2 separate regions of the Homo sapiens genome follow, and region 1 is linked to region 2. The links come from fine-mapping of genetic effects on gene expression. A gene starts in region 2. The other region holds a variant in brackets. All regions are shown on one strand. Distances are between the middles of the regions. Region 1 overlaps GMEB2 (glucocorticoid modulatory element binding protein 2). Region 2 holds the start of MHENCR (melanoma highly expressed competing endogenous lncRNA for miR-425 and miR-489).

What was found. PIP is the estimated chance that this variant, and not a neighbour inherited with it, causes the effect.
Region 1: its variant is the best candidate, but not a certain one, in a credible set for the expression of MHENCR in blood mononuclear cells (TOPMed, PIP 0.64).

What each region holds. Positions count from the first base shown.
Region 1 is chr20:63,597,031-63,601,411 of GRCh38, forward strand. GMEB2 (glucocorticoid modulatory element binding protein 2) reads right to left here. Exons shown (of 10, transcript NM_012384.5): 5 at 727-830. Among named protein-coding and RNA genes, the nearest start is that of HELZ2, 25 kb to the left of the region's middle. RefSeq lists an enhancer at 776-945. The variant G/A (reference allele first, on the strand shown) is at 2,137.
Region 2 is chr20:63,624,811-63,629,191 of GRCh38, forward strand. It overlaps MHENCR (melanoma highly expressed competing endogenous lncRNA for miR-425 and miR-489), which reads left to right and starts at 2,425. Exons shown (of 2, transcript NR_132417.1): 1 at 2,425-2,582; 2 at 3,380-4,014. GMEB2 (glucocorticoid modulatory element binding protein 2) reads right to left here and starts at 2,291. Exons shown (of 10, transcript NM_012384.5): 1 at 2,146-2,291. RefSeq lists silencers at 1,653-2,192, 2,283-2,732.

The DNA.
Region 1 (4,381 bases), 28 kb before region 2:
AGAAAGGACAGAAATAAGGAGTAACATAAAAGGCCAAAATCTGATGCACAAATACCAGATTATACCTTTCTTTTATTTTTTATTTTCAGAATGCATAATTGGAACAGACCCTTTTCTTTTCCTTTTTATTCTTGTTTTTTTTTTTTTTTGAGACAGAGTCTCACTCTGTAACCCAAGCTGTATTGCAGTGGCACAATCACAGCTCACTGCAGCCTTGACTTCCAGGCTCCAGTGATCCTTCCACCTTAGCCTCTCGAGCAGCTGGGACCACAGGCATATGTCACCAAATCCAGATAATTTTTTTTTTATTTTTAGTAGAGATGAGGTCTCATTATTGTGCCCAGGCTGGTCTCAAACTCTTGGCGTCAAGTGATCCTCCTGCCTCAGCCTCCTAAAGTGTTGGGATTGCAGGTGTGAGCCATGTGCCCAGCCAACCCTTTATTTTACAACGCTGAAACAGTCACAAGTGCCTTCAGGTAAAGAATTGGTGGAAATTAAAATGACTGACAAAACAATTCTAAAAATCTGATAGTGTCCCTGTTGGCAGGAGTGTGGGAGACGGGTTTACAGTTTTGGGTGTGAGCAGGTGCAGCAGCCACCCGGGAGGTTGTCAGCACTCACCACATCTAAAATACGCCTCATCTTCAAAATCCCAAAACCCCACAAGAAAGCAAGAGCTGCCAGGGCCCCTTCCAGCAGGGAGGCTGACCCTGCGCCAGCGCCCACCTGAGCATGATGCCGTTCATGCGGATGGCTCTCTTCCAGTCCTTCAGGGTGGACTTCCCGGCCAGGTGCACAAATTCCTTTGGGCTGATTACATGCTCGTCGTACTGTGGGGGACACAGTCATGTGGGTCAAGCTTGGCCGGGACACCACATAGGGTGCCCCCATCTCCCATCCGACCCTGAGTCAGGCGCGCAAGGCAGGAAAAGCGCCACGGCACGGCTCTGACCGGTGCAGGCCTCCTACAGAGCATTCAGGTAAAACAAGGACATGACCCACAGGCACGGTGGCTGCAGTGGGGAGTGGTGTCTCCTCCAGCCCTGAGGGGGCAGAGCTGCTGTGTGCCTGGGGCTAGACAGGGCTGGGCTGACCACACCAGGTAGAAGGTGTGTGGCCTTCTCTTCCTCCAGGCAGACTAAGCAAACTGCTTCTGTGCAATGTATTTTATAAATACACGTTATTGCATACGTTACATCGCAGATGGCAACAGATGCCAGCACATGGGTGGAGCTGTGAACGCCACCTTCCTCAGGTCCCTCCTGACACCACCTTGCCCCGTGCAGCAAACACCGGCACCTGCTCTCACTCTGACACACACACACACACACACACACACACACTCATCTGTTTCTAAGCCAGGGGAACCCTCCTGCTTGCTAATTTCACCCATGTGGGAGCTCAGAGAAACTGAGAAGGTAAAATATCCTGTTCAATCTTGTTACACAAGCAATTATTGAAACCAAAAACTGGAATAAAACTGCATTTACTTAGAAAACAAGCAGGCTGGGGATGGAGGAGTCACGAGGTCTCTGCAGCTGGACCCAGGAGGCCCGAGTACGGGGGCCGCCTCCACCCCCGGGCCGTGCCCAAGTCTAGCTTGCTGAAGGAAGTGATGTTCCCAATCCCTGAGCCCACCCTCTCATGACCCCTGTGCCACAGACGGGAACACTAAGCCCAGCCAGTCTCTGGCTCTCCCTCATGCGGCTGATCAGGGAGATCCCATAGAAGTCCAGAAGGTGGAATCCAGAAGATTCTCTGGCCACTGTCGGAGCCTGGCAGGAAGGCTGCACTGGCTGTGACTGAGGCTGCTTCCGGCCATCACTTCTACCCAACGTGGCTCACACCTAGGAAACTCAACTGCACCCAAAGGGCCTGATCCTACCTAGGGCTCTGGGCTCAGCCAGCCTCACCTCCCTGCCCCTCCTAGGCCTGCCTCTTTCCTTTCTTGCTTTCACCTTTGTTACTCTTCTCACCCCAGGTTTTCCTCTCCCAGCTAGGAAGCTACATGCTGTACTCTCATGAGTGGCTCCAGGAGCTTCAGCATGTCACGCTTACCAGAGCTGCCAGAGCCCAGAGCTAACGCGGCCACTCCTGACCCCCCAGAGCTAACGCAGCCGCTCCTGACCCTCCAGC[G/A]CTAACGCGGCCCGCTCCTGACCCCCCGGAGCTAACGTGGCCGCTCCTGACCCCCCGGAGCTAACTCGGCCCGCTCCTGACCCTCCAGACCACAGCCACGTGGCCCTGCTCTCATCTCTGAGGCCCTCCAGGGCGTCTCTCTCGATGCTGAATAGACAGGACTGGTCGGGTGACCCACGTTTCCCCGACTCTTCACACCTCCTCACAGCACAGCGCTTCCATCTGGAGGCCTCCTATCTCCGCCTGCAATGCATATTTAGAACATCCTTCCATCATGATCTGCTGGTGGCAAACTCGTGTCTTTTTCTGGAAACGTCTTTCTTCCAGCATAATTTCAAAGACGACCTCACGGTGTCGTCACTCGCCACACAGTGAGGCTCTGGCGCTGCCACCTCTGCTCCTGCGCTGCTTTCGGGAGCTCACGGCCGGCGGGATTCTTGCTACTGAGCGATCCGTCTCTCCTCCTGGCTAGACTGAGGATCTTCTCTGTCCCCGTCCTTCTGGAATTTCATTATGATGTCACCTATGGTACATTTCTTTCGTGTTTCCAACTTCTAATTCTAATACAATTTCAAACTCACAGGGTAATTGCCAGGATAGTCCAGGGAGCTCTCACACGTGCGTTCCGGACTCACTGCCTGCTCCCGTCTGCCCCCTTGCCCCCGCCTAGACCTGTGCACGTGCAGCTACTGAGAGTGAAGCAGAGACGTCGGGCCCCTGGGCCCTCAACACTTGTGTATATTTCCTAAGAACAAGCTTCTCTTACGCAGCCACAGAACAACTCGCATCAGGAAATTATCATTCATACATTATTCTCTAATCCATTGTCCATAGTCAAATTCATGAATTGTTCCAATGATAGCCTTTATTGCAAAAAAAAAATTTTTTTTTTTGAGATGGAGTCTCACTCTGTCGTCCAGGCTGGAGTGCACTGGTGCAATCTTGGGCTCACTGCAACCTCCGCCTCCCGGGTTCAAGAGATTCTCTTGCCTCAGCCTCCCGAGTAGCTGGGAGTACAGGCACATGCCACCATGCCTGGCCAATTTTTTTGTATTTGTCGCAGAGATGGGGTTTCACCATGTTGGCTGCGCTGGTCTCGAACTCCTGACCTCAGGTGATTCACCCGCCTCGGCCTCCCAAAGTGCTGGGATTACAGGCGTGAGTCACCATGCCCAGCCTACATTTTTTTCTGATGCAGGATCCAGCCCAAGACTGTGGAGCATGCAGCTGCCTTGCTCTTCGGCTTTTGTCCCCATTAAGACTGCAGCAGGCCGGGCGCGGTGGCTCACGCCTGTAATCCCAGCACTTTGGGAGGCCAAGGCGGGCAGGTCACCTGAGGTCAGGAGTTCGGGCTCAGCCTGGCCAACATGGCAAAACCCCATCTCTACTAAAAATACAAAAATCAGCCAGGCATGGTGGTGGGTGCCCGTAGTCCCAGCTACTCAGGAGGCTGAGGCAAGAGAATCACTTGAACCCAGGAAGCGGAGGTTGCGGTGAGCCAAGATCGCGCCATTGCACTCCAGTCTGGGCAACAGAGGAAGACTCCATCTCAAAAAAAAAAAAAAAAAAAAAAGACGGAGCAGCTTCTCAGCCTGTCTGTGTTTTTCTTCACCTTGACGTTTTTGGAGCTTGTGGGTCAGGTATTAACGTAGGCTGTCTCTCCATGAGTGTCTGCTGTTTTCTCATGAGTAGAGTCAGGCTATGAACTGTTGGAAGAACACCACAGACCTGCTCACTGCATCAGGAGGCTCAAAGGGGAGGTCTGTCCCGAGCCTGATGATGTGAAGATGGATCGCTGGGTTAAGGAGGCACCTGCCAGCTTTCCCACCACAGCTACGACTTACGTCTGCAATGGCTGCATGGTTTACAGGGATGCTCTGAAACTAGTCTGAGCACCCGCTCATGACTCTGACCCCATCATTCCTCCCATGCTTTACTTCTCTCTATGCATTTATTTAACATAAATAAATAACATGAAATATATGGAGATAGGTATATAGACTCATAGATTTTATTTTACTCGAGTGATGACCCATGACTATCACTATTTATTTGGATGCTAAAAGCCACCCTACATGCAGGCAGTGGGGTCTTCATCCAGGCTGGGGTCAGTCAGGGCCCTTGCACTGTGGACCACTCTTTCTCAGTTATGAAAGTTCTCAGACTCTCTCTCCTCCTTCCAGAACTCAAATAGATGTGTTTGACTCTCGTGCTTCCTGAATAAATTGCTTTATTTCTATTTACA
Region 2 (4,381 bases):
GATTCTCTTGCCTCAGCCTCCTGAGTAGCTGGGATTACAGGCGCCCACCACCACGCCCGGCTAATTTTTGTATTTTTAGTAGAGACGGGGTTTCACCATGTTGGCCAGGACAGTCTCGATCTCCTGACCTCGTGATCCGCCCGCCTCTGCCTCCCAAAGTGCTGGGATTACAGGCGTGAGCCACTGAGCCTGGCCTCCAATGGCAACTATATTAAAGGTTCAAAGCAATATGCACAAAAGTTACCTCACAGAAAATAGTGCAAGTCCTTGATACAATGCTCTTTAGACACAGAAGAAGCACTATAGAATAGAGCACCTCGCCCTATTGCCTTCCCAAGGGCGAGCACCCCCTCCTCTCTCCACAGCTCCTTCTTTGTTTTTTTGAGATGGAGTCTCGCTCTGTCACCCAGGCTGGAGTGCAATGGCAAAATCTTGGCTCACTGCAACCTCCGCCTCCCGGGTTGAAGTGATTCTCCTGCCTCAGCCTCCCGAGTAGCTGGGACTACAGGCACCCAACACGCCTAGCTAATTTTTGCATTTTTGGTAGAGACGGGGTTTCATCATGTTGGCCAGGCTGGTCTCGAACTCCTGACCTCCAGTGATCCTCCCACCTTGACCTCCCATAGTGCTGGGATTATAGGTGTGAGCCACTACACCTGGCCTCTCCACAGCCCCTTCTGTGTTGAAGCCAAGACCCACCCAGCTTTGATCCCAAGGCTTGGGTTCCCCACTAGTGTGAAGTGAGTTTCCAAATTATTAGGTAAATCAGATATGAGAAAATATTTTATTTTACTTTTTTTTTTTTGAGACGCAATCTTGCTCCGTCACCCAGGCTGGAGTGCAATGGCACCATCTCCACTCACTGCAACCTCTGCCTTCTGGGTTCAAGCAATTCTCCTGCCTCAGCCTCCCAACTAGCTGGGATTACAAGTGCACACCACCACGCCCGGCTAACTTTTGTATTTTTAGTAGAGACAGGGTTTCACCGTGTTAGCCAGGCTGCTCTCAAACTCCTGACCTCATGATCCGCCCACGTCGGGCTCCCAAAGTGGTGGGATTACAGGTGTGAGCCATCACACCTGGCCCAAGAAAATATTTTTAAACTAGTATTCTTGACCGGCACGGTCAACACTGATGTAATTGAAACTGTTGTATTTGAAGTGTTAGCAAAGAAAGAGAATTCTGGTTCAACAGAAAAGTCAGTCACGACTTTTCAGTCACGCATGAATTACACAGTAACCAAATAGATAACATGCCATGACTGACGACGGGCCCACAACAAATCAGCTCCGACCAACAGGGTCCACACCACCATGGGTCTACACAGATCCAGGTCCCGCCTGTGAGCCTACAGTGACGCGGGCCCCTGTGGGGTGGTCCCTGCAGGTCAGGTCCCTGAGAGTGGGTCCCAGTGGGGTGATCCCTGCGGGTCGCGTCCCTGCGAGTTGGGTGCCTGCCGGGTGGCCCCTGCGGGTCGGGTGCCTGCGGGGTGGTCCCTATGGGTCGCGTCCCTGCGGGTCGGGTGCCTGCGGGGTGGCCCCTGGGAATCGCGTCCCTGCGGGTCGGGTGCCTGCGGGGTGGCCCCTGGGGATCGCGTCCCTGCGGGTCGGGTGCCTGCGGGGTGGCCCCTGGGGATCGCGTCCCTGCGGGTCGGGTGCCTGCGGGGTGGTCCTTGTGGGTCGCGTCCCTGTGGGGTGGTCCCTGTGGGTCGCGTCCCTGTGGGGTGGCCCCTGCGGGTCGCGTGGTGGCCCCTGCGGGTCGGGTGCCTGCGGGGTGGTCCCTGTGGGTCGCGTCCCTGCGGGTCGGGTGCCTGCGGGGTGGTCCCTGCGGGTCGCACCCCTGCGGCGTGGTCCCCCCGGGATGGGTCCACCGAGGAGGCCGCTGGAGGCCGAGCCCGCGCCCGCCCGCGGCGCCAAGATGGAGGCAGGAAGCGCCGCCGCCCGCGCCCGCCACCGCCCGCGCCGCCCGCCTGACGCCGCCGTTGCGCCTGACGCCGCCGCCCGCGCGGCCGCCCCTCCCCCGGCCCTCCCCTCCCCCCGCCGTAACGTCCTGACGCTCCGCAGGGACCCCTGACTGGACGGCGGCGCGTGAGCGGAGCGAGAGGCCTCGCCGCGGGGGGGCCGCGGGCTCGCCGGCGCCGCTTACCTGGGGCCGCGCCGGGCCTGCTTAGGCACCCGGCGGGGGCGGCGGCGTCGGGAGCTGCGGCGGCGGCGGGCGGCGGCGGCGGCCGCGGGCTTCGCTCCTTGTTGGGGATTCGGCGGCGGCGGCGGCGCGGGCGCGCGCTTCCTAGTGACGCAGGCGGCGGGGCCGCGCACGCACGGGGCTGGGAGGGCCGGACACTTATTTGGCGCTCGCGGAGGAGGAAGGCGGGGCCGTGAAATAAGGCCCGACGGGCCCCGGGGCGCGTGCGCGGACCGACACTGTCAGCTCCTAACGCCGCAGGTTCCTCCTGGTCCCCGAGGCCCCCGGTCGGGCGTTGCCTGCCCCGCGCGGGCGGCCGGGCCGAGGGACGATGGTCAGTGGACGGACGGCGCCAGGGAGCAGTGCCCACGCGCGGCAGGGCGGTACCTTCAGGCCTCCAGGTACGGGCGCTCCTCGCCCGGACGCTGCTGTGTGTGAATGGGCGCGAGGGGACTCCCCTGCGGGGCGGACGCCTGAACACGAGGCTGTGGAGGAGGACGCTGTAGGGTGCGCGGACTCACGCGGAACATGCCAGAGGCTCAGCCAGCCACGGCGCTCCCAGCGTGGAGGGCGAGGGGCATCCGGGAGCGGCCGGGAGGGCTCGGTCACCCCTCAAGCTGTCACCCCAGTCCCACAACCAGCACCCCGATCCTATCGCAGTCCCACAGCCGACACCCCGATCCCACCCCTGCCCAACAGCCGGCACCCACCCCAATCCCATAGCTAACACCCCGGTCCCACCGCTGTCCCACGGCCGGCACCCCGATCCCACCCCAGTCCCGCAGCTGGCACCCCGATCCCACCCCAGCCCAACAGCTGGCACCCACCCCGATCCCACCGCTGTCCCACAGCCGGCACCCCGATCCCACCCCAGTCCCGCAGCCGGCACCCCGATCCCACAGCCGGCACTCACCCCGATCGCATAGCATAGCTGATACCCCGATCCCACCCCAGTCCCATAGCCAGCACCCCGATCCCACCCCAGTCCCATAGCCAGCACCTCGATCCCATAGATGACACCCCGATCCCGCCCCAGTCCTATAGCCCGCACCCCGATCCCACCCGAGTCCCGCAGCCGGCACCCCATCCCACCCATGTCCCACAGTCGGCACCCCGATCCCACTCGGATCCGGCAGCCAGCTTGGATCCTGTGGCCCTCCTCCAGCCCCCAGGGCTCATTTATATGTTTTATTGGCAGAGGCTGGGGCTGGCTCTGTTGGCCTCTGTGCTGGGTTTCTTCCTCTGCACCGCAGGACTGGCTCTCCTGACCTCTCCAGGTGTCATCGAACACCCTTGTGCTTGCTGTCACCCGCTGCCTGTCTGCAGGATCCCGGATTCCGTATCAGGGGACCGAAATTAGTCGGAAAATAGGAAGCAGGTGCTCGCTTGGATGGAACCCTGACCCTGTGCTCACACTTGTAGGAGGAGGGCTCTGCAGGCCGCCTCCCGGAACGGGAGGTTCCCAAGCCACTGCACTTCGGAGGGGCTGTAATTAGAGTTGCACATTCATTCAGTTCCCAGTAAAGTAGAACGTGCTCCAGCCAGTGAGGAAAAGGTGTTTTTAAAAATTAGATTGGCCGAGTGCGGTGGCTCATGCCTTTTACCTCAACACTTTGGGAGACAAAGGTGGGAGGATCACCTGTGGCCAGGAGTTCAAGACCAGCCTGGGCAACAGAGCCTGTCTCTGGGGAAGAATAAAAAAAAAAATTGAGCCTTTGTCAGTGCTACTATTTTATTATCTGGTAAATATGAGAGGGTTCACGCGGTCTATGTGTGTCATTTATCTGAGTTTGCCTATCGTCACGTTTTGGAAATAAATGTCAATAAAGTCGAAGAGGAGTGCTGAGGGGGGCCTGGGGATGGGAGGGTGGCTACATCATGCCTGTGTGTTGCGCAAGCCCACCGAGGTCGGCCTGGGGTGAGCCCTGGGGCCTGTTCTGCCTCCTTCACTCTGGGGCTCCAAGAGACAAACTGGGCAACAAGAGAGAAACTCCATCTAAAAAAAAAGAAAAATCACCTCCAAGATAACTTAGCTTTCTTCTGCTGGCATAACAAATTATCTCAAACTTAGTCGCTTAAAAATGCAAATTTAGGCTGAGTGCGGAGGCTCACGCCCATAATCCTAGCACTTTGGGAGGCCAAGGCAGGATTGCTTGAGGCCAGGAGTTCGAGACCAACATGGCCAGAACTGTCTCTTTTT